Homo sapiens: one gene and its partners. The protein of the gene in region 1 interacts with the protein of each later gene in a pairwise test. Each region holds a gene or a part of one and is shown in the gene's direction. Other genes may lie near its edges.

Region 1 (3,500 bases):
TTTTTCTCCTGCTTTAAGCACTAAACCAAGAGTTCTATAAATGCAATAAGCAAAAAAGTGAAAAATGTACTCAGAAGACTATACTGGATCAGTTAGTGTAGAATACTGTTATATTAATTTTTCATTGTATTAGGGTTCTCTAGAGGGATGGAACTAATGGAATATATATGTATGTATATATATTCCAACCCAAAGTGTCTTGGTGGCAATCTTAATATATATATATTGGCAATCTTTATATATATATAAAGGAGAGTTTGTTAAGTATTAATTCACATGATCACAAGGTCCCACAATAGGCTGTCTGCAGGCTGAGGAGCAAGGAGAGCCAGTCTGAGTTCCAAAACCGAAGAACTTGGGGTTCGATATTTGAGGGCAGGAAACATCCAGCACGGGAAAAAGATGTAGGCTGGGAGGCTAGGCCAGTCTCGCTTTTTCATGTTTTTCTGCCTGCTTTATATTTGCTGACAGATGATCAAATGGTGTCCATCCAGATTAAGGGTGGATCTGCCTTCCCCAGCCCACTGACTCAAATGTTAATCTCCTTTGGCAACACCTTCACAGACACACCCAAGATCAATATTTTGTATCCTTCAATTCAATCAAGTTGACACACTCAGTTTTAACCACCACAAATCTACCCCTTGTCAACTTGAACCCGTACACATCTCCTGAGATCACACATAATCTTCAAATAAAGACAATAATTAGGTCATAATTACACCTGATGTAGTACAACTATTCTTCATACATCCGGAAACACACTAGTCCCCAACTGAAACACTCTTACATAAAGTTAACGATACTTAAATGCTGATGTGAAGTCAATAAATCTTATGTCACATGATAAAGGAGAAAGGAAATAAAATGAAGATATTTTCTTAGTACAAGTGTGTGCAAGCACAGACATGTTTTTAATAAAAGAAGGAGGAAATACTGAGGACAATTACAGTCCTCATTTCTGCAGCTGGTCACATGGTAGTAGCTGGTATTGATGACTACCTTCTTCTACCCATTTTGTATTCCTTTTGCCTTCAGCAAACACCTCAGCAGGTTGTGTTTTTTTTTTTCCTGATGGAGAGGCCCAAACCATTTGTAGTCCCGCCTGGATTGGGCTGTTGTAGTTGCCCATTGACCTTAATCACAGGGCATGGTAATACTAAGAGACGCCCTAATGGATCTCCTGTATTCCATGAATACTCTTTCTTACCTCCGTTCTGGAGTAGTAGACTGATTTCATCTTGATAGCCTGGGTCTTGATAGCCTTGATGTCCCAGCCAACACTGTAACGCCTTTCTTAGCCTGTTTACTTAAAGGTAGGAACCCAAAGTGTCCTGGTGGCAATCTTAACTACCAGTTTAATGGAATTGTTGTTGTGTCTTCTGATGGCAGCGTTCCTCCCTCTGGAACTAAGACCTCTAGGCCAGCAGAACTTAATGTTACGGGAACAGGAAGCAAACATTTTGCTAGTGGATCACTAGGGGTGATGGTGAGTGGTACCACTTCCATTTCCACCCCTTGATTCCTGGACCTGTGAATCCTGGCTATGGGAGAAACAGTACCACATATTGGACGCTGATTCAGAGCATACACAGCCTTCTTGAGAACTTTGCCCCAACCCTGCAAAGTATTCTCACCTAGTTGGCATTGTAATTGTGACTGCAAAAGGCCATTCCACCGTTCTGCTTCAGGATGTTGGGGAACATGGTAAGACCAGTGAATTCCATGAGCATGAGCCCACTGCTGCACTTCTTTAGCCATAAAGTGAATGCCTTGGTCAGAGGCAATGCTGTGTGGAATACCATGACAGTGGATAAGGCATTCCATGAGTCCGCGGATGGTAGTCTTGGCAGAACCATTGCATGCAGGATAGGCAAACCCATATCCAGAGTAAGTGTTTATTCCAGTAAGGACAAACATCTGCCCTTTTCACAATGGAAGAAGTCCAACATAATCAACCTGCCACCAAGTAGCTGGCTGATCACCCTGAGGAATAGTGCCATATCAAAGGCGCAGTGTTGGTTTCTGCTGCTGGCAAATTGGGCACTCTGCGGTGGCAGTAGCCAGGTCAGCTTTCCACCGGCCCATCTTGTTTTCTGCACTGGGAAGGTGGGGCATGAGCACAAATGTTAGGACCTGAAAGGTGGTGAACTCTGCCTGGGCAGGGCAAAGCCAGAGGAAACTCTGGTGGAGGTCCGTAGCAGTCCTGATGTGCAAATCGGTCATCCAACCTGGGTGTAGGGGCGAAAGACTAATTGAACCATCTAGTAGCTGGTTCCCTCCAAAGTTTCCCTCGGGATAGCTGGCACTCTCGCAAAAACCCCACTCTTGGTACCAATTTACTGTATTAGTCCATTTTCACGCTGCTGATAAAGATATCCCCGAGACCGGGAAGAAAAGAGGTTTAATTGGACTTACAGTTCCATATGGCTGGGGAGGCCTCAGAATTATGGTGGGAGGCAAAAGGCACTTCTTTCATGGTGGTGGCAAGAGAAAATTAGGAAGAAGCAAAAGCAGAACCCCTGAGAAACCCATCAGATCTCATGAGACTTATTCACTCTCATGAGAATAGCACAGGAAAGACTGGCCCCCATGATACAGTTACCCCACTGGGTCCCTCCCACAACACATGGGAATTCTGGGAGATACAATTCAAGTTGAGATTTGGGTGGGGACACTACCAAACCATATCATTCATCAAAAGGTGTTGGTGGGGTAGAGGGTAGTTAGGATGATCCATGATCTCCATCATGATGATGATGGTATTGATGATGTAAGTCACTGAAAATATTTGGTGTTATAAGAATAATTTCTTCCTGATTGTCAGTTTTGAGTTGTTTTGCTATTAGGAGGCAAAGTAGGGGGGCATATACCCACTTAAAATATTTTAATTCTGGCTAGTGGAAATGACAGTAATGCCTTCTTCATAATTAAAATGTCACTCTGAAATGGTCCCAAATTAAAACTTCTTCCTTTGTTGTTAAGAAGGATCTCTTCTTGGTGTGTTCTGCAAGATTCTGATCACCTTTTTTTTTTTTTTTTTTTTTTTTTTTTTGAGATGGAGTATTGCTTTGTCATCCAGGCTGGAGTGCAGGGTGCAATCTCGGTTCACTGCAAGCTCCACCTCCCGGGTTCACGCCATTCTTCTGCCTCAGCCTCCTGAGTAGCTGGGACTACAGGCACCTACCGCCATGCCCGGCTAATTTTTGTATTTTTAGTAGAGATGGGCTTTCACCTTGTTAGCCAGAATGGTCTGGATCGCCTGACCTCATGATCCACCCGCCTCGGCCTCCCAAAGTGCTGGGATTACAGGTGTGAGCCACCACACCCGGCCGATTCTGATCATCTTTTATACATATGCTATTTTTGTCTATCACTTTAGGAATCATCACAGATCAAGGTCATCCTTTTGGTTTTTGTGATAGCGCTATACCTCAGTCAGCTTACTAGCTCATCTCCACTCAGAGATGAAGAAGCATAGGCAGCAAGTTAGTGCCTAT
Region 2 (3,500 bases), on another chromosome or scaffold:
GGGTTGTCCCCCTTCCGATTCCCCACAGTTTCACACATTCATAGTTTTGGGTGCCAAGCCTGCTCCAAGGTGACGAGGTGAGGACAGCGTCTTGAGTACTTCTGTATCTAACATGGTGCTGGACACTTGGGACTTGGTCAGCAGAAGCCAGCGTTCAAGTTTCTGCATGACACTGTTCCAGCCCCCTGGTCTCAGTTTCCCCAGAGACGGGGCTCATCATACCTATGGCTAGAGAGGGCCAGGCATTGATGGATGGCCCAGGAATGAGATGAGACCACTCCAACCTCCCAGGGGTTGGGGAGCATGTTTTTGCGGCAGGCAGGGCTGTAGGGGCCATCAACTGGCTGTGTGATCCTGAGCAAGTCACTTCACTGCCCTGGGCCTTGGCTATTCTAAGGGCATGGATCTGTGGGCTCCTGCCTGTAAGGCCCAAGTCACAGGGGACTAGAGGCCGTGAGACAAGAGTCTGAAGTATGGCCCGAGGGCTCCAGGTCAGGCACACAGGCCTCTTCATTGGGAAGGGGTTGTATAACCCTCACTGTTGCTGCTCCCTGGAAGCCCTCCGTGATCTAACTGCCTACTCTACCCCTCAACAGGTGGAGATCTTTCCTGCTGTTCCTTAATCAGGACATGGGTGTTGGGGGCAGACATCCTCATTAGAATCCTGCTTGTCCTAGACCCTCCGAGCTCTGCACATGATTTATGCCCAATAGGTCTTTGGAAATGAGGTAGCGGGAGGGAGATGCAAATCAAAATAGGATATGGTAAGAAGGGGGCTGCCTGGTCGTGCAGATTGGATGGATCATGGCTGGTGGGGTGCCTGGCACATAATGGGTGCTCAGTATACACACTAGCTATTGGAGGTCTTCGGTGTCAATTCTTGGACTGAATGGGCAGGGTCGCCACAGGCGCATTTGAGGATGTACTGCGTGCCCAGCCCTGTAGAAGAGTAGTGAGATGCGCCCCCTCCTAGGCCCTGTGCTGGCTCCCATGGAGAGACAGGGCTGGATTCCCCCGCCAGGGGTGGGCTGGACTGGCCTGGTGGCCTGGGGCTATGGCCGGCGGAGGCGTGGCCTGACTCACCTGCTTTAGGTGTTCTGATCTGCTTCCCATCCCCAGCTGTTCCTGACCTTCTCCCCCACTCCTCCTCCATGGTCTCTACTAGGACATGCTGTTGTGCCCTTCTCCCTACTCTGGCTCCCCTTCCCCTGTGGCCCAGGCCCACCTTGGTTCCCACCTGTCCCTTTGTCCCCTCCTTGACTTGAGCTCATTGGTTCCTGGCCCAATTCAGTGAGACTCATGACGATCTCTTTCATCCCCGGGTCCCAGACACTCTTCGGCTCTGGTGTCCAACACTCTCGTCCTTTCTGGCTCTCAAGCCCTTGTCCTCCCTGACAGCCCCTCATCCAGGCTCAGGCTGCAGCTGCTCCCCGAAACCAGTGCCACTCGACAGCGTCACCCCATCCTGCCTATTCCCCCTCAGCTGCCTACGGGACGTGCCACTTCCCAGATGCCTCAGCCACCCACTTTCCTGTCCCTGAAAGACCCCCTCCCAGTTCCTCACTCCCAGCATGGGTACCGCTGTTCTCAGCTTTCACCTTTTCCTTAGTTTTGAATTATCTTAATTATTGTTATTGCTTTTTCCTGCCCCCCCATCCAGCCCCTGTTCCTCCCACAATTCCCCCTTCCCATCTTTGTTTCTGTGTGTCCCCTCTGCTGTCCCCTCTTAGCCCAGGTCCTGCCTGGCTGTACAGCATTCTTGGGTGGCACCTCCAGTACTTGGGCGCTGTCTCAGACTTCCTCAAACCCCATCTGCCTCTTGCCTCACTTCTCCAAAACCGCCATTCATCCCCTTTCCTCTGGGTGACAGGCCACGTGATACGCTATGCCTGTACTCTGCATTCAGTTCCCATCCTGCCACTTCCTTGCTGTGCATTCTGGCCAGGTCACCATCCCTCTCTGAACCTCAGGGGCCTCATCTGGAAACCAGGTGGAGGAGCGCATCTCCCTGCAATTGTCCCGAGCTTCCAGGCCATGACACCTGTGGAGTGGTGGGCTGGCGTGGATGTGGCCTAGCGCTTGGGAACCTGACATGCTTGTGGGTTTGGGGCTGAAGACTTGGCCGCTCTCTAGGGGAGCCAAGCTTTGCTGGGCTTGCAGGCTGGCCTGAGAGCTGGCCCACCAACCCTTTCCTGGGACTCCCTTGGTCCCTGGATGTTAATCACATGGCTGTGAGCCTCCGTCCCCTCAGTGTCACCGCAAAGGCTGAGCGTGAATCTGAACAGGCCCCTGTGCCAAGGCACCGCCCCGGGGAGCCAGGCCCTGGGTCGGGGTTTCTGCAGCCTCCCTAGAGGCCTGGGCCCTGGCAGCCCGCTGAGTGGTCCCAGTGTGCCCTCCCAGCCGTCTCCTTCGTCCAGTTTCAGAACCACCCTTGCTGTCCCCTCCCCTGCTTATTGAATGAATCCATTGTGCCCATGACCAACAGGGGTCTTTAGTTCCAGGAGGTAACTGGACAGGGTCATCTTGGGCACTGGTTGAGGAATAGGCTGGTCTGGCCACTGGCCAGGCCCTGCTGGCTTGGGGACACTGAGAGACCGAGGGCCACGGAGTCTAGGTCTCCTTCTTATTTTGTGGGTCGGGGCAAGAGCCCTGCTGGCCCTCCTAGGGTGGGCCTGGTGGGGTGAGGATTGTGGTTACTGCATTTTCTTTTGGTTGTGTGTTTCCTGGGGAAGTGACCCGTGGGGCCTTTCCTGTATGAACTGCCTGGGCCTCTCGGCAGTGGGAGCTGGCTTTGGGATGGGGGATGTTGGCTGGGTGCCCCATCTACCTCTGACCTTGACTCCTACCCTCTGAACAGGCTCCTTTCCAGAGGCATCTGTGGCTCATCTCAGATGCTGGGCTCTGTTTCTGCAGGGAACGGGGACTGAGGAGGTTTGTACAGAGAGCGGTGGACCCGGACTGAGGAGGGTAGGGACGCTGGGCAGCAGAACATTAAGTGGTCCCTGCTTGCCCCACGACTGAGTTCACCACTGACTTGGGTGTTCACAGCCAGGTTTTCAGGCCTCTGGTCTGGGAGGCTAAAGTGTGTGTGAGATTGGAGATTCTGGCTTGGGCTGGACCCGAGGAGCCCAGGGTCCCTTCTTTGAAATTTCTGAGTCTCAGGAGTTGGCCTTGCAGCCTGGAAATGAGGAGGAAGAGGGTCTGCAGATTCTGGCTACCCTCCAAGGGCAGGTCAGGCCCTTCTTCCCTCCTGCTCCTGCCACCTTTGGCGTTGGGGAGTTGGTGGCTACTGGGTGGTCCCACTGTTCCCATGTTCCCACACTTCTTGCCATTGGGATTTGGCCTTGGGCTCTTCTACTGGGGGTGATGGGAAGGATGTCACAGACTCTGTCACAGGCCTCCTGGACCACTGTTTCCTCTGGCTACAAAATTGGGCCCTGTCCCCACTCTGCCCCACAAGGCAAAAATGAGAGCCTGTTGGGAAAATGGTGAGGTCAGCC
Region 3 (2,831 bases), on another chromosome or scaffold:
TGTGACAAAAAAAGAGGCAGTCCCTCTTTCACATTGACAGAAGAAACTTCCTCTTTCAATTCTAGTAGTTGAAGAATTTATATTTCCAAATTGTATGATTATACCGCTACTTTTTGATACATCAATTATTTATTGACTTCCTACTAGAAAGAGTGAAATTTTGCCCATTTATACTGCACCATTTTTCCAGTATATGAATATTTTACTCTTTGTACATCAGAAACTCAGTATTTTCATTATTATGACTAGAGTTTTTTTGTTTGTTTGTTTGAGTTCTACTTGTCCAATAAGGATGATGATTTTCTTTTAGATGTAAATGTTAACTTCAATAGCAAGAATTCAAAAATAATATTCTCTTTGAGATTGACTGTGAATGTTATTGAAAAGTGTCTAAATTAGTCTGAGGATCAATGAGGGTCAATTCAGTTAGGAATTGAATAATGAAACGTGTCTCTCTGAATTCCCCCGGCAATTGTTTTAGTCATTTATCAGGCCAAAATTAAAATGTTTTTGTACTACAAGATGGAAGTATAAAATTATTGGACAAGTGAAATCGTATCAGTAGTTCCTGACTGACAGCTTCTGGAGCCACACTAGAGCAGTGATTCTCAGTCTAACATTAGGTTATCATGATGACGTATGAGTAAATTCTTAATGGTTAAATGTGAGACAGTTCACATTTATTCCCATAGAAATGTCATTCTCATTTGAATTCAGAGATACTTCTTTGCTGGAAGTTGGAATTATAGCTTTACACCAAGGAGTGACACGTAGACTAATCTGGCAAGCCAAGGTAGTGTTTGGATTGCAATGTCATGATTCTATTTTAAATTCTTGATGGTAGAAACATTTTTAATAAGGAAGGTAAAAATACTGGAAAAAAGTGAATAGTGTAGGTTTTGTGAGGAAAGTTAACATTTGTCAATGACAAGCATTAAGGCCACCTAATAAAGTGTAGACAAAGTGATAAATGAAATATACACTGATGATACTCATTTCAATATGCTAAAATACATTAAATTTAGGTATTACTCTTAATCTATTTCTACTTAGTCAGTGCTATCTGATTACCTGTTAATAGCATCTGAACTGGAGAGCTGGAAAAATCCACTTTTTTATGAAGCAGTAATTATAGAAGTACTAAAAATTACAATGTATTAGTAAGTTTAATATTTTGACAGGGCATGGTGGCTCACACCTGTAATCCCAGCACTTTGGGAGGCCGAGGCTGGCAGATCACAAAATTAAGAGATCAAGACCATCCTGGCCAACATGGTGAAACCCTGTCTGTACTAAAAATACAAAAATTAGCTGGGTGTGGTGGTGTGCGCCTGTAGTCCCAGCTACTCGGGAGGCTGAGGCAGGAGAATCGCTTGAACCCAGGAGGCGGAGGTTGCAGTGAGCCAAGATCATGCCACTGCACTCCAGCCTGGTGAGAGAGTGAAACCCCGTCTCAAAAATAAATAAATAAATAAGTTTACTATTTTAAAACTGGTTAATCATTTATGTATTTTGCCAGTAAAATTACTTTAAAAGATATTTTAACAAAAGTCTCATATCCTTGTACTTCAGTTTTTTTGTGTGTGAATACTATCCCTATACCACTACCCCTAAAACCTCAGAATTATTTGCTTTATTTTTTCATACAACTTGGGGAAGGGAACCATGGGAGTATGCACATGGGATCATAATCCATTCTGTGGTTTGGAAAAAGAAAATGTTAACCTCTGCTTTAGAGGGTAGCTACTAGCTTTGTTGGGGATAAAAGTGTAATACATGCACTTTTGAACTCTGAAAGTTTGCCAATCTGAAAAGGGGTGTTTCTGAAGACCACTATCTTTTACGAACACTTAAAAATAAGTGTTTGCAGTTGTGTATGGGCACGATACTGTATTCTTTACATTTTTATGGCCCTACAGCTACTTCTTATCCCTGCAAGTATATAAATTAAAACCAAGTCACTTTAGAACAGCTTTGAAACTAGAGTTTCAAAGGTAAAAGGATCTCATGTTTCTGAATCTGCGTAAAGCAAGATGGCTGTGATTTGACAGGTTTAATTGCTAGTTTTTTATAGGTGGATAGAAATGAATAGTTTGGAGTCTTTAAAATGTTTTAAAAAATGTTTGCTTACTATCTATATATATGACATTATTCCCAATTAGTTTTATATCTCCAAGATATATATATGTATATAGGTATATACACATATGTATATATACATAGTCTATATATTCTATATAAGAATATATTCCAATAAGAATATATTCCATACGGGAATATATTAGTCATTGATGTATTTTGCCGGTAAAATTAAAAGATATTTTAACAAAAGTCTCATCTCCTTGTACTTCAGTTTTTGTTTTTTTTTGTTTTTGTTTTTGTTTTGTGAATACTATCCCCATACCTATATTCCATACAGGAATATAGTCTATATATTCCATATAAGGATATATTCTATATATTCCATTTAATATATTCTATAAAAATATATATTCCATATAAGAATATAGAATGTATAATACACGAATTTGTACTGAGTAGAATGTGTCAATACATATTTGTTGAATGAATGAAAATGAAGGCCAAGTGTGGTGGCTTATGTCTGTAATCCCAACATTTTGGTAGGCCAAGGTAGTAGGATCACTTGAGCACAGGAGTTTGAGACCAGCCTTGGCAACATAGGGAGATCTCATCTCTACAAATAATCGAAAAATTGCCAGGTGTGGTGGCATGTGCCTGTGGTCCTAACTACATGGGAGGGTGAGGTGGGAGGATCACTTGAGCCTGGGAGGTTGACATTGTAGTGAGTCTTGATCATGTCACTGCACTAC
Region 4 (3,500 bases), on another chromosome or scaffold:
ACATTGGTCAAGAACTTTAGAAAGAACAATACTGAATAACAATGAGAATAGAGGAGATAGCAGGCATCCTTGTTTTATTACTAACTTTACAGAATTATGTTTAATATTTTGTCATTAAGTGTGTGGTTTTTATTTTTTATTTTTTTGAGACAAGGTCTGGTTCTATTACCCTGGCTGGAGTGCAGTGGTGCCATCTCAGGTCACTGCAACCTCTGCCTCTCAGGCTCAAGTCATCCTCCCACCTCAACCTCCCAAGTAGTTGGGACTACAGGTGTGCACCACCATAACTGCCTTTTTTTTTTTTTTTTTGAGATGGAGTTTCGCTCTTGTTGCCCAGGCTGGAGTGCAATGGTGTGATCTCGGCTCACTGCAGCCTCCGCCTTCTGGGTTCAAGTGATTCTCTTGCCTGAGCTTCCCGAGTAGCTGGGATTACAGGCGCCTGCCACCACACCCAGCTAATTTTTTGTATTTTTGGTAGAGATGGGGTTTCATCACGTTGGCCAGGCTGGTCTCAAACTCCTGACCTCAGGTGATCCACCCGCCTTGGCCTCCCAAAGTGCTGGGATTACAGGTGTGAGCCACCATGTCTGGCACATACCTGGCTAATTTTTGTATTTTTTGTAGAGTTGGGGTTTCATCATGTTGTCCAGGCTAATCTCCAACTCATGAGATCAAGGGATCCGCCTGCCTTGGCCTCCCAAATTGCTGGGATTACAAGCATGAGCCACCGTGCCCAGCCTGTGTATTTTGTTTTTTATCAGGAACATTCACTGAATTTAATTATTTTGGGGCAGTGATTGGAATGACCATACAGTTTTTCTCCTTTTGCCTATTAATGTAATGACTATTGAAATAGATTTCCCAGTGGGAAGACGTTTCACGCTGAAGGACCAGTGTGTGCAGAGGTGAAGGCAAGAGCTGCGGCAGATGGGCGAAATGGGTGTCATGTGTTTGATATCATCTATGCAGAAATCATTAGAGTTGGCTGCAGCTGCTTGGTCTTTTTCTGTAAACAGCCATCTTGCTGTCCTCAGATGCTGGACAGTGTTAGGTCTGGGAAGGTGGGCAGAGGCATGATGCTTGCCCTTTTCATTGTGCTACTTCTTATCCCTCCCAGACAAAATGAAAATCAAATGCCGTTTCCAGAAGGCCTATCGGAGGGCTTTGGACCATGAGGAGGAGGCCCTGTCATCGGGCAGTGTGCAAGGTATGGGAAGGGATGAGCACACCATTTTAATGTGAAGCCCTCTTTTTCCTTCTGATCTCTAAGTGCATAGTTCCCATGCTTTGGCTTACTTCCAAAACCTCTCTTGGAATGCTGGGAATGAGGAACTGTGGGATTCAGCCCAGTCCACTGAGGGCCAGAGAGGTTGATTGGCTTACCCAAGCCTGACCACTGTGTCAGCTGAATGTGAGTGAAGGGGTGGGTTAGGCATTCTTTGGGGCTGGGGGGAGATGGAATGGTGTTTTGCTCTTGGTGTACCACCTGTTCTTGCCCCCAGAGGCAGAAGCCATGTTAGATGAGCCTCAGGAACAAGCGGAGGGCTCCCTGACTGTGTACGTGATATCTGAACACTCCTCACTTCTTCCCCAGGTAAGGTAACAGAGAGGCTGCGACTTTGCCTTATCCCTTCAGCTCGTGGACTCCTGGGTCACCTCCTTCTTGCATCATTGCTACCCATTTCTTCCATTTGCTACAGAAAACTCTCCAAAAAAAAATTTTTTTTTTTTTGAGACGGAGTCTTGCTCTGTTGCCTAGGCTGGAGTACAGTGGCGGGATCTCGGCTCACTGCAGCCTCCGCCTCCCGGGTTCAAGTGATTCTCCTGCCTCAACCTCCTGAATACCTGGGATTACAGGCATGTGCCATGTAATGTATTTTTAGTAGAAATGGGGTTTCACCACGTTGGTCAGGCTGGTCTCGAACTCCTGACCTTGTGATCTACCTGCCTTGGCCCCCCAGAGTGCTGAGATTACAGGCGTGAGCCACCGCACCCGTCCTCCACATATTTTTAATAAAGAATGCTGGCTGGGTCTGGTGGCTCACACTGTAATCCCAGCACTTTGGGAGGCCGAGGCGGGCAGTTTGCTTGAACTCAGGGGTTCAAGACCAGCCTGGGCAACATGGCAAAACCCCATCTCTACAAAAAATAAAAAAAATTAGCTGGATGTGGTAGTCCCTGTTACTTTTGGAGGCTGAGGCAGGGGGAGCGCTTGAGCCTGGGAGGTGGAGGTTGCAGTGAGCTAATATCATGCCATTGCACTCCCCATCTCTACTAACAATACAAGAATCGGCCGGGTGCGGTGGCACATGCCTGTAATCCCAGCACTTTGGGAGGCCGAGGCAGGCGGATCACTTGAGGTCAGGAGTTTGAGACCAGCCTGGTCAACATGGTGAAACCCCATTTCTACTAAAAATACAAAAATTAGCCGGGCGTGGTGGTGGGTGCCTGTAGTCCCAGCTACTCGAGAGGCTGAGGCAGGAGAATCACTTGAACCCAGGAGGTGGAGGTTGCAATGAGCCAAGATAGTGCCACTGCACTCCAGCCTGGGCGACAGAGTGAGACTCTGTCTCAAAAAGAAAATTTATAATCAAATATTTAATTTTTATAAAAGCACTAAAGAAAATGTTAATGAACGTCCCCATCCCCACCCCCAGCTCACAAACTGCAGTGCAGTAGCACGGTGTGTACTTCCATGGTTATACTCCATTCCCTTTTGGCCCAAGGCAACCAGATTTTGTGTTTGTAATTTTCTTGCTTTTCCTTAGAGTTTGATCACATATGCTGTATCTCTGTAAACAATGTATTTAATTTTACATTTTTGAATTTATATAAATGGTGGCTTATAACACATGTTCCTCTGCCACTTTTATTTTATTCCCTTCATGTGGCAGAGCCTGGTGAGAGAATCATCCATAATTATGTAGTTGAATCTATGTATCATTGTATAAACATAAACATAATTTACCCATTCTATTGCTAATGGACATTTGGATTATTTCTAGGTTTTACTGTTAGAAATAATGCTATTATGAATACTTGTTTCTTTGCCATGTGCCATTTTTATATCAGACTCTCCAGTTGTCTGTTTATTCCGCTTTTCTTGCTCAGCATGCCATCTCTGAGTTTCCATTTCACCATTTTACCAGCCCCTGAAGAGTTAGATGCTGCCTGGACCCATGTCAACTGGGAAAAAGAAGAGAACGGAGACAAATGAAAATACTCAATATATACTCATAGCTCAGAAATGCTGAGTTAATAGCTCATGAATCTCAAGAGAGGTGCAAACCTGTTGGTCATTGGCAAAGGGGCAGATTCGGAACAGTAGGAGCCAGGGTGCTTTTTGGCTTTCTTTTCTGAGCCATGGGCATTCTGTCTCTTGCTCACCCCCACAGGACATGATGAGCTACATTGGGCCCAAGAGGACAGCAGTGGTGCGGGGGATAATGCACCGGGAGGCCTTTAACATCATTGGCCGCCGCATAGTCCAGGTGGCCCAG
Region 5 (3,500 bases), on another chromosome or scaffold:
CCTGTGTTCCCAACATGGCCTCTTGGGCTCAGACACAATTTAATGGAGTTGCCTCAGCTTCTCTAACAGCAAATCAAATGCCAGGCTGAGGTTGTGGGCTTATGGAGACTTCTTGAGCTCACACCCTCTCAAGTAGCCTGAGGAAAAGAGGCCCAGACCACTGCTGTTTTCATGGCTCTTGATACTACCAAGAATGAAGAAATGCCATAATGGTGCTTTTGGAACTGTTGTCAGTGTATTTTTATAACTTTATATATCCCCCCCCCTTTTTTTTTTAGAGAAAACAAAATTCTGTATTTGTGAGTTAATATACGTAAAGTATTTAAAATAGTGCTTAGTGGCCAGGCACGGTGGCTCACACCTGTAATACCAGCACTTTTGGAGGCCAAGGCAGGCGGATCACCTGAGGTCAGGAGCTCGAGACCAGCCTGGCCAACATGGCGAAACCCCGTCTCTACTAAAAATACAAAAATTAGCCAGGTATGGTGGCACACGCCTGTAATCCCAGCTACTTGGGAGGCTGAGGCAGGAGAATCACTTGAACCCGGGAGGTGGAGGTTGCAGTGGGCTGAGATTGCACCGCTGCACTTCAGCCTGGGTGACAGAGCGAGATGCCATCTCAAAAAATAAATAAATAAATAAATTAAATAGTGCTTAGCACACAGTAAGCACAACATCAGTGTTTGCTGTTTGCTGTGGGAAGCTGAGGGCAGACCCAAGTCGACCTGTGCTCTCCCCTGCCCACCTCTCTGTAGAGGGAGCCTCCTCCTTCCTCATTCTGGGGCATGTTGAAGCACATGTTTCTCCTGCCCACCAGAAGAGGGAGCCCTCAGTAAGGGCACACAGTTGGGGAGGTGGTAGAGGAGATGTGCATTGGTTCTGCCTTGGGCTTGACTTTCCTAGGTCAGGGTGTCCCAGTCTCAAGATTTTGAATTTACAATTGAACCCCTTCCCCATTAACATCTGGCCCTTGGATACTAAGGCATGGGCTGTCTAGGGTCGTCTAACATTTGTTATCTAACAAACCGACCTTGGAAGTCAGCTACCTACCTCTTCCCTCACTGTCCATATGACAAAACTCAGCACTAGAGAAGTAGGATTTGCCCAGAGAACTGCCGTGGGTCCATGGCACTGCTTCATGTAGTTATGTGGCATTCAGTAGAGTCTGTGATAGTCGGATGTGACCTTTGGTTCCCCACCTCTTGTCCTGCATCAGATTGTCTCCCAGTGGCTCAGGGACCCATGCAAACACTTGTTGGACTCACTCATTGACCCTTCTGTCTTCTCCCCTCCAGGTGACAAATGTGGATGATGAGGGGGTGGAGCTGGGCTCTGGGGTGATGGAGCTGACGCAGAGTGAGCTGGTGCTGCACCTGCATCGGCGTGAGGCCGTCCGCTGGCCTTATCTCTGCTTGCGGCGCTATGGCTACGACTCCAACCTCTTCTCCTTTGAGAGTGGCCGCCGATGTCAGACAGGCCAGGGTGAGTACCAGGCCCTGCTCCACCCTGGGATAGGGGCTTATGCAGTACTCCAGGGTTCCTAATGTATAGGTTAGCCCTCAAGAGGTTAGTGTTATCCCCATCACCTGTGGGCAGTAGAGTGTGATGTATTCTCCCTGCAGTCAGAGGTCAGGGGTGGTAGGTTATTCCATAAGGTCAAGGCTAGAGCCAGCCACAGCTCTCTGAAGAAGTGGCATGGTCTGAGTTTATCTCTTAGGATCCAGACTTAAGCTGTGCAAAAGGAATCCTGCATGGGATTGTGTTCAGTGCAGTTTGGGATTATGGCTGTGCAGAGGTGGAATGAACAAGCTTCTCTGATGAGGCTGCCAACAAAATAGTGAGCCTCCGAGGTCATGTTTGCTGGAGGAGACTTCCCTCCATGCATCTTACCTTTGGAATTCATGAGGCAGAGGCAGGGGCGCTGGGTGAGCAGGCAGAGCAGGCAGAGGCATCCTTGCTCCTAGTGATGTTTGATCTACACTTGGGTTCCCAGAGGGGCTACCCCTGGCCCCAACACGGGGTTCTCTACAACTCCAGTCTTTCCCAGTCTTTTCTACTTCTCGTCATATTTTGCCAGAGTAGTTATTTTTCTTCCCTGTTTCCTCCCCATCCTATTTGTGCAAACCATAGTTGTCCCATTCCCCAGGCTAATTGTGTCTTAGTTGTGGGTATATGCACAGGCACACCCCACGTAGCCTCCCCTAGGTCCCAGGTCCCCCTGTTACAGAGGAGTCCATGCTGGCCCAGTACCCCAAGGGCATCTTTGAGTCCCCTGATTGACAGACACTCAGCCCAGTCCTGCTGTTCCTGGGACCTTGAGTTGCAGTGTTGCAATTTGAAGGGCTGTGAGGCTGGCTGCATTGAGGAGCCTTGTGATTGCCTTGCCATGTTTGCCTTTAGCTAGTCTGCCCATGATTTCTTCCTTCCCGTGCCAGAGTTTAATCTATGAGGTTAGGGACCTATATACAGTAGGCATTTGCTTTCTGGCCACACACTGGGCTAATAAGTGAAGAAGCAGGGAACAGAGTAGACCCTCTTGTCATCAGCGATCTGAGGGCTGGTGCTCTGGATGGAGTTTTTTTTCCTAGGAAGCAGGGGGTGTTAGGCAGAGGAAGATGGGGGAAGCATGTGAGGTAGAGTGTTCGCTCACCTGGCTGGGCTCAGTGGCTCACACCTGTAATCCCAGAACTTTGGGAGGCTGAGGTGGGCGGATCACGAGGTCAGGAGATCGAGACCATCCTGGCTAACACGGTGAAACCCTGTCTCTACTAAAAATACAAAAAACTAGCTGGGCATGGTAGCGGGCACCTGTAGTCCCAGCTACTTGGGAGGCTGAGGCAGGAGAATGGCGTGAACCCGGGAGGCGGAGCTTGCAGTGAGCTGAGATCGCACCACTGCACTCCAGCCTGGGCAACAGGGTGAGACTCCGTCTCCGAAAAAATAAAAGAAGAATGTTCACTCATCTAATACTATCCTTTCCACCTTGGCTTTTGGTTTTGTTTTTTTTCTTTTCTTTTTTCTTTTTTTTTGAGACAGAGTCTCGCTCTGTCACCCAGGCTGAAGTGCAGTGGCACAATCTCGGCTCACTGCACCCTCCACCTCCGAGGTTCAAGCAATTCTCCTGCCTCAGCCTCCTGAGTAGTTGGGATTACAGGTGCTCACCACCACGCCTGGCTAATTTTTTGTATTTTTAGTAGAGACAGGGTTTCACCATGTTGGCCAGGCTGGTCTTGAACTCCTGACTTCAGGTGATCCACCCTCCTCGGCCTCCCAAAGTGCTGGGATTACAGGCGTGAGCCATCATGCCCGGCCTCCACTTTGGTTTTGATTCTCTTCTTGTGACCCCTGAACACACACATCCTTATGAAAATGATTTCGCTTCAGAGCAATATAGCTGGAGTGTTCAATGTGGTGTGGGCGTGCTGGGGCAGGGTACCTTGGACCCAGCCTTTCTAGTAGCTCTTGGATTCTAGAGCAGACCTAGAAAGAATGCTCAGGGC
Region 6 (4,024 bases), on another chromosome or scaffold:
TATTTCTCAAAGAAGCTAAGTTTTAAATAGATAACGCATGCATGTGGTAGAAAAATGAGAGCAGTACAAAAGGGTGCACAAAGGCAAACCTTGCCCCTCTTGCTGGCCTCTTGCCCACTTGCCCTCTGCAAAGGCTGTGTCTCAGACGGGGTGCCCAGGACGCCGGCTCTGACACGGAGACCCACGGCAGGCAAGAGCCTCTGGGGGAAAGGGAGGAGCAGCAGAGAAAGAGGCGGCTGTAATGCAGTCTCAGGGAAGGCCCAGCCGCCCGGAGGGAGCTCCGGAGCCGCACTGTTCCTGGTCAGGAGTTCAGGAAGAGGGTCTTCAGGCTCTGAGTGGACCAATCATCAAGCAGCCCTTCTTGGGTATGACCTGGGGCAGATTCTTCATCTGGGAACAACTGGCCCATCCTCCCCAGGCCAGGGCCCTGCAGCCAACACTCCCCAGAGCTGCGGGATGCATCCTCCTAAAGGGACCTAGGCAGCTTAGCCCGAAAATCACTGTCACCCACTGTCCCCAAGTTACCTCTGTCCCCTCCCTACCCTTTTTAGCTGAAGACTTATTTTTAATTGTTATTTTCTTAGACCTCTGGAGCACCCCACGCCCCCAGCCTGGGTTAGCTGTCAGGAGCCCCTGTCTCTTCCTTTCCCACTGCAGCGCCGCCCCCTCGCTGCCTCAGGGGGAGCCCACGCAGCAGCGGGGGCAGACGGGCCTCAGCCTCAGGCAGCCTGGGGAGCAGAGCCTTAGAAGCCATGCTTTTTCTTTTTCCTTTTCTTTGAAACAACTTTCTAGGGCTCTGGAGTTATAAAAAGCTCCCATGTGTCACTTTCTGGCATTTGGGCAGCTGCCGAATGCCACCCGGCCTGCACTGCTGTCCTCCCGAGGTTTGCCCCTGGATTGATGGGCTGGGTTTGGCAAAAGCAGCTGGAGGTTATCGAAAATCTGTTGTAAGGAGCATTGTTAACTTAGAATAAAAATCGAATCCAAAACACGCTTTTGCAATACCCCCTCCCGATATCCACCGAGGCAAAGGCAGAATTAAGAAGCAGGGTCTTGAGATGTAGGAAAGGAGAATGAACCCCACGCGGGAAGAGGACAGGCCGCCCTGACTTTGGTCCACTCAGCCAGGGGGTGAGCACCACCTGTCTTGGTGAATGACTCTGAGCCCATCTCAGGTGTGGCTGCAGGTGACACATCTTCTCTTCCTGTCCACCCCCCAGCCCCATGGCGTCCCTTCCTGTCCTGCAGAAGGAGAGCGTGTTCCAGTCGGGAGCCCATGCCTACAGAATCCCTGCCCTGCTCTACCTGCCTGGGCAGCAGTCCCTGCTGGCCTTCGCGGAACAGCGGGCAAGCAAGAAGGATGAGCACGCAGAGCTGATTGTCCTGCGCAGAGGAGACTACGACGCACCCACCCACCAGGTTCAGGTGAGGCAGGAGGTGTCTGCACTGGCTCCCCAGGGCTCTGCCACACCCTTTGCTGCTGTGATCAGGGGCCAGTCCTGGATCTCAAGAAATACAGGGACAACTTTATCCCTCAATGGCTGTACTCCGGAGGAGAGATAGAGCAGAGAAAGTGCCCCTAATGGTTCCCTGGACCTCTGGGTTCACTGTGAATTAGTCCAGCTGGCCTCCATCTGTTTTCATGAAAGATTGAATGAGTTGCCCAGCATCCGTGATGACCTCACGGAGGAATAGTTCAGTGTTGCATAATGGAGGGTTGTGTCCTTTGAGTAAAATTAACTTGGGGACTTGGGGTGGGGTGATGGCTTGTGTCCTAAAGTCCCATTTTATAGATTAAATAATTAATCCTGATGACAGCACCCAAGGCTGGCTGATCATATTTGAAGAGTTTAATATTATTATCATTCCTTTGTGGTCATTACTACACAGCTGTTCAAAGCATGGGATTTGAAGCAGATGGACCTGGGTTCAAGTCCTGGTTCCGCCACTGACCACAGATGTGGCCTAGGCAACTCCTCCTCCCTGTCGCGGTCTCTTGCTCACTGTAATAATGGAGCTACTAACACCTGTTCCCTGGGGATTGAGGCATTAGATGAGACCATGGATGTTAGACTTTTGGTGCTGTGTCTGTGCTTAGAATTGCCCAATGGGGGTAGCTGTTAATAAATGGGGACAGACAGCACATGTGACATAGACTTGGGGATTCTGGAAGCTCAATGTGACTCCTCCTTGGCTACATGAGTAGGATATGGAGTGTAGAAGGTGAGAGGTGACCGTCACATTCTGTCTTGTACTGGTCAGGTTATTGCACCTTCCGCCAGGGCTTTGCTATTCAAGGATGGTGAGCTGGACTGGGGTGGGAAGTGGAGGAACCAGGATGAAGTTGGGAATGGCTCATGCACGAGTCATCTTCATATCTTGTGGTCTGGCAGGTGGGTGTTCTGTAAATGCATATTGATGGCAATGGAAGGAACAGAATCACTCAGCCGAGTGTGGCTGCCTTGGAGGGGTGAGGTGGCACCCTGGGCCCCGCAGCTCTGGGGAAACGTTGCAAGGAGGATATGAGTGTTGGGTGAAGAGTTCTTCTCGATGACTTTTGACTCTAACCCGGGAGACACACCCGTGCCCACCCCTCCCACTCATGCAGCTCCTGGCACCATCCCCAGCTGTTTCAAGGCTGCCTTCTTCTTTCTCTCTCCCTACTCAGTGGCAAGCTCAGGAGGTGGTGGCCCAGGCCCGGCTGGATGGCCACCGGTCCATGAACCCATGCCCCTTGTATGACGCGCAGACGGGGACCCTCTTCCTCTTCTTCATTGCCATCCCTGGGCAAGTCACGGAGCAACAGCAGCTGCAGACCAGGGCCAATGTGACGCGGCTGTGCCAAGTCACCAGCACTGACCACGGGAGGACCTGGAGCTCCCCCAGAGACCTCACTGATGCGGCCATCGGCCCAGCCTACCGGGAGTGGTCCACCTTTGCAGTGGGCCCGGGGCATTGTTTGCAGCTTCACGACAGGGCCCGGAGCCTGGTGGTGCCCGCCTACGCCTACCGGAAACTTCACCCCATCCAAAGGCCGATCCCCTCTGCCTTCTGCTTCCTCAGCCATGACCATGGGCGCACGTGGGCGCGAGGGCACTTTGTGGCCCAGGACACCCTGGAGTGCCAGGTGGCCGAAGTCGAGACTGGGGAGCAGAGGGTGGTGACCCTCAACGCGAGAAGCCACCTCCGAGCCAGGGTCCAGGCCCAGAGCACCAATGACGGGCTTGATTTCCAGGAGTCTCAGCTGGTGAAGAAGCTGGTGGAGCCGCCGCCCCAGGGCTGCCAGGGGAGCGTCATCAGCTTCCCCAGCCCCCGCTCGGGGCCTGGCTCCCCAGCCCAGTGGCTGCTCTACACTCACCCCACACACTCCTGGCAGAGGGCCGACCTGGGTGCCTACCTCAACCCGCGACCTCCAGCCCCTGAGGCCTGGTCAGAGCCGGTACTGCTGGCCAAGGGCAGCTGTGCCTACTCAGACCTCCAGAGCATGGGCACCGGCCCTGATGGGTCCCCCTTGTTTGGGTGTCTGTACGAAGCCAATGATTACGAGGAGATTGTCTTTCTCATGTTCACCCTGAAGCAAGCCTTCCCAGCTGAGTACCTGCCTCAGTGAGCCTGTGGTGCCCACCTCAAGGGCCTGCCTTTCACCTGCACACCCAGCTCGGAGGCTCTGCGGCTGCCTCTCCTTCCCGTGGCCCCTGGACGTGGGGGCCACTCTGGGCTCCCTTCGGCGCCCGTGTGTGGAGAGAGGTGCACCTCTTGCTCTTTTCCTCCTGCGTGGTTCCAGTCTTCCCAAAAGGTTCTATTTTCAGCCCAGAAACCAAAAGTGTCTGGCTTCCCATAGCCCCTCCATAGGGAAGGCGTGGAGGGTCCTGCAGCGCAGCTGTCACCTTGTCTGCCTGTCCCCTACCCCCAGCTTTGTGTAGGTCTTGACAAATTTCTAGTTCAACTCCTTCCTTCTTGGGAACCATTCCTTATGTTCCTGGGGAAGAACTGAGATGGAAGACCATGGTGTAAATTAGCAGAG
Region 7 (3,500 bases), on another chromosome or scaffold:
AATTGCATGTGTTAATGTAATTTTGAACATCATATTTGCTTACAGAAATCCATTGGGTAAAAATCTATAGCATTCGTAATAACTTTGGAGAGGGTTTTGGTTAATGGGCTATTATGTGTACTAACAATATCTGTTTACCTTTCTGAATTATTCATTTTTCTTGTCTTTCAGTTTTAGAAAGAGCGTTTTCGCTACGTAAAGCACATTCGATAAAGGATATGGAAAATACTTTGCAGCTGGTGAGAAATATCATACCTCCTCTGTCTTCCACAAAGCACAAAGGGCAAGATGGAAGAATAGGCGTAGTTGGAGGCTGTCAGGAGTAAGTAGCTGATGTGCAGTGTTGGTGTTTAAAAAGTCAGTTGCTGGCTGGCTGCTTACCTGACTGTCATTCACGCTGTCTAGTTTGACCTCAGTAATCATTTCCAAATGCAGCCTGATAGGACACTCAGTATTTTTCAGTGATCCACTTTTTGATTAACTAGGAAATAACTCTGAGGAGCCCTGACTGAATTACTCCCTCATGTGTGTCAGTGTTAAGTTTTGTCGTAGTGGGGAAATGAGCCTGTTTTTTCCACTTTCTGCTTTTCTGTATTTAACTGGACTTCATACCACAAGCATGTTTTTTGTATTTAGGATAGAAACACTCAGCAACCTCTTGGTTTACTTTGTCAATTTAAAGATGTTACTGAAAGTCATTTATGAAATTTGACAAATCCCTAGCTTGCTTCTGTTCTGTTTTGCTGCTGTGTTTGGTACGTAGCTGTTTGTAAGTTGTCCTTGGGTGTGAAGGATACCTTCTGCCTCTGACGGAAAGCCTGCCGTGGCTCCTCTGTTTCTGCTTGCTTTCTGTTTGCATGGATGTGGTATCTCTCTTTGCCCATCCCTCCATTTGCAGCTGTTGATCGTGCCATAGGGTGTGTTAGAGTTGTTACTGGATCAGGTATGTGTGCATTTTACATGCTGGTGACGCTGCCGAATTGTCCCCCCATTGCGTTAGTGTGTGTTGCCTCCCAAGAGCACCTGTTCCCTGCAGCCCTTGGAGGACAACCTTTGCTAGTGAAGTCGACAAGCTTTCTTGTTGTTTTAATGCATTTCTCTTATTAGTGAGGCTTGTTTTCACATGATGGAAGAGTGTGTGCATGTATGTTGCCTGTTCTGTACTGTCTTTTGCATTTACAACGCTATTGACACCGCTTTGCAGGAGAAGGCCATGTAAGGTGATGGGTATCAGCATTTGCCCAGGTCTCTCTTTCTTGGGTTAGCAAAACATTTCACTGCTCGGAATGGACATAAAGGTTGCATTTGCCCATCTGACGGAGGGCAGGGCTCTTCCTTTCTGTGCCTGAAGTGCCCTTAGACCTGGAGAGCCAGGGATTCCAGAACAGCCAGGCGGAAGCAGCTGGGTGGTGGGTGCCGTTTCTTGTTTGTCCCAGGTGGCCCCCATCTGGCCTCTGCTGACTGTGACTCTTGGAGGACGGGGTCTGCCCACTCTGGGACCCTGTCCATGCCCGACTGCTCCGAACATGTGGTTGTCACTTTCTTCTCTCCAGGCAGAAGCCTGCGGTCAGCTCCTTACCTTGAACATTCACATTGCAGGGAGACTGCAGGCATTACTGCCAGAGATTCACTCTCCTGAAATGCATGAAGGTTTTATGTAAAAGATCGACATTTCTGGCTGGGCGCGGTGGCTCATGCCCGTCATCTTAGCATTTTGAGAGGCCGAGGCGGGCGGATCACCTGAGGTTGGGAGTTTGAGACCAGCCTGACCAACATGCAGAAACCCTGTCCCTACTAAAACTACAAAATTAGCCGGGTGTGGTGGCGCATGCCTGTAATCCCAGCTACTCAGGAGGCTGAGGCAGGAGAATCGCTTGAACCCAGGAGGCGGAGGTTGCAATGAGCCAAGATCGTGCCATTGCACTCCAGCCTGGGCAACAAGAGTGAAACTCTGTCTCAAAAAAAAAAAAAAAAAAGACATTTCTAGTCGAACCTGGTTCATGTTCATTGAACATTTGCTGAGCATCTTTTAGGTGTTGGGTTTGTGCTGTGTGCTTCATGTCTCTGTTATTTATTGATAAACCATGTCTATATTATTTATGTCTATTTTTTATTGATAACCTATTTATTGATCAAGGTATGCTTACCTTATTCTCAGAAGTTTTTGACTCTAAATACCTTCTTTTTAGGTACACTGGAGCCCCATATTTTGCAGCAATCTCAGCTCTCAAAGTGGTATGTTTACTTAAAATTTCTTTATTGGGATTTTTCTGGTAGAGAGTTTGATTATTTAAATATGATTAAAGCAAATGTTTTCTGATAGAAATCTAAATAATATCTTAGGGTAATCATAGCTAATAGAAACACCGTTAAGTCTATCCTGACATCTGTGCATAAACAAGATCACTTCAGTTGAAGCTCATTTTTTTTTGAGACAGAGTTTCGCTCTTTTTGCCCAGGCTGGAGTGCAATGGCGGGATCTCGGCTCACAGCAACCTCCGCCGCCTGGGTTCAAGCGATTCTCCTGCCTCAGCCTCCCGAGTAGCTGGGATTACAGGCACCTGCCACCACGCCTGGCTAATTTTGTTTGTATTTTTAGTAGAGTCAGGTTTTCTCTCTGTTGGTCAGGCTGGTCTCGAACTCCTGACCTCACGTGATCCATGCGCCTCGGCCTCCCGAAGTGCTGGGATTACAGGCGTGAGCCACTGCACCTGGCCTCAATTGAAGCCCATTTTTAAAACCTAAAGCGTGATTTGTATTGTACTCCACCAAAGTGCACCTGGGATGCCTTTGTAGGTCGCAGCTGAAGCCGCTGATCCTGCAGTTTCCCATGAGCTGAGCAAGTGCTAACGGCCGGCCTCTTCCTGTGACCCTTCCTCCTGGAGGGTGACCAGACCGAGCTGGGCCGTGCTGGTGTGTGTGGCTCTGACCCTGCCTCTGCAGTGGCGGCAAAAGTCTTTCTTTTTAGGTATTGTGCTCTGCGCCCTGGCCCTTTGCTAAGCCACCTGGCTGGGTGTAATCCGAGCTAGTACGTTTCTCATGCACGTCACCAGGGCTGAGTAATGAGCGCTGGACGCCTGTGTCTGGCGGGTGGGCAGCGATGCCGGAGCGATCCCTGAGTCGGCCTCTTGTGCTCCTTCATCAGGGCGCAGACTTGTCCCACGTGTTCTGTGCCAGTGCGGCCGCACCTGTGATTAAGGCCTACAGCCCGGAGCTGATCGTCCACCCAGTTCTGTGAGTCGCTCTGCGCCGGCTTCTCGTAGGTTCTCTTTCCCTCCTGCATCATTTGGGGTTTTGGCACTGACACCGAAAGCGTCCTGATGGATTTTCCATCCTCAGAGTTTCTCAGCAGGTGCTGTAGAGGAAGTAGGGAAATGAAGGAGCCCGTTCTTCTGGGGTCAGAATAAGACAGAGACGGCGGGGTGGAGAGGTGGGTGGGGGAGCTTGGGCCTGTTGGAAATGGCCGGGGCCCAGCTCCAGAGGCAGGGAGGCCCTGTGGG

Evidence for each region.
Region 2: the proteins of NOTCH2NLA (region 1) and RAB3IL1 interact in binary tests that used the Homo sapiens proteins (3 or more experiments, as listed by UniProt).
Region 3: the proteins of NOTCH2NLA (region 1) and UTP23 interact in binary tests that used the Homo sapiens proteins (3 or more experiments, as listed by UniProt).
Region 4: the proteins of NOTCH2NLA (region 1) and PIGS interact in binary tests that used the Homo sapiens proteins (3 or more experiments, as listed by UniProt).
Region 5: the proteins of NOTCH2NLA (region 1) and FRS3 interact in binary tests that used the Homo sapiens proteins (3 or more experiments, as listed by UniProt).
Region 6: the proteins of NOTCH2NLA (region 1) and NEU2 interact in binary tests that used the Homo sapiens proteins (3 or more experiments, as listed by UniProt).
Region 7: the proteins of NOTCH2NLA (region 1) and NAXD interact in binary tests that used the Homo sapiens proteins (3 or more experiments, as listed by UniProt).

Annotation. Positions count from the first base shown.
Region 1 is NC_000001.11:146,159,522-146,163,021, reverse strand, and holds part of NOTCH2NLA (notch homolog 2 N-terminal-like protein A), read left to right. Parts: intron 1-3,500.
Region 2 is NC_000011.10:61,911,067-61,914,566, reverse strand, and holds part of RAB3IL1 (guanine nucleotide exchange factor for Rab-3A), read left to right. Parts: intron 1-3,500. UniProt on the Homo sapiens protein: Guanine nucleotide exchange factor (GEF) which may activate RAB3A, a GTPase that regulates synaptic vesicle exocytosis. Promotes the exchange of GDP to GTP, converting inactive GDP-bound Rab proteins into their active GTP-bound form.
Region 3 is NC_000008.11:116,772,354-116,775,184, forward strand, and holds the end of UTP23 (rRNA-processing protein UTP23 homolog), read left to right. Parts: 3' UTR 1-2,331; downstream 2,332-2,831. UniProt on the Homo sapiens protein: Involved in rRNA-processing and ribosome biogenesis.
Region 4 is NC_000017.11:28,561,525-28,565,024, reverse strand, and holds part of PIGS (GPI-anchor transamidase component PIGS), read left to right. Parts: intron 1-1,117; coding exon 1,118-1,207; intron 1,208-1,502; coding exon 1,503-1,594; intron 1,595-3,395; coding exon 3,396-3,500. UniProt on the Homo sapiens protein: Component of the glycosylphosphatidylinositol-anchor (GPI-anchor) transamidase (GPI-T) complex that catalyzes the formation of the linkage between a proprotein and a GPI-anchor and participates in GPI anchored protein biosynthesis.
Region 5 is NC_000006.12:41,773,401-41,776,900, reverse strand, and holds part of FRS3 (fibroblast growth factor receptor substrate 3), read left to right. Parts: intron 1-1,295; coding exon 1,296-1,482; intron 1,483-3,500. UniProt on the Homo sapiens protein: Adapter protein that links FGF and NGF receptors to downstream signaling pathways. Involved in the activation of MAP kinases. Down-regulates ERK2 signaling by interfering with the phosphorylation and nuclear translocation of ERK2.
Region 6 is NC_000002.12:233,031,448-233,035,471, forward strand, and holds NEU2 (sialidase-2), read left to right. Parts: upstream 1-1,224; coding exon 1,225-1,425; intron 1,426-2,668; coding exon 2,669-3,610; downstream 3,611-4,024. UniProt on the Homo sapiens protein: Exo-alpha-sialidase that catalyzes the hydrolytic cleavage of the terminal sialic acid (N-acetylneuraminic acid, Neu5Ac) of a glycan moiety in the catabolism of glycolipids, glycoproteins and oligosacharides.
Region 7 is NC_000013.11:110,622,045-110,625,544, forward strand, and holds part of NAXD (ATP-dependent (S)-NAD(P)H-hydrate dehydratase), read left to right. Parts: intron 1-171; coding exon 172-322; intron 323-2,189; coding exon 2,190-2,235; intron 2,236-3,145; coding exon 3,146-3,234; intron 3,235-3,500. UniProt on the Homo sapiens protein: Catalyzes the dehydration of the S-form of NAD(P)HX at the expense of ATP, which is converted to ADP.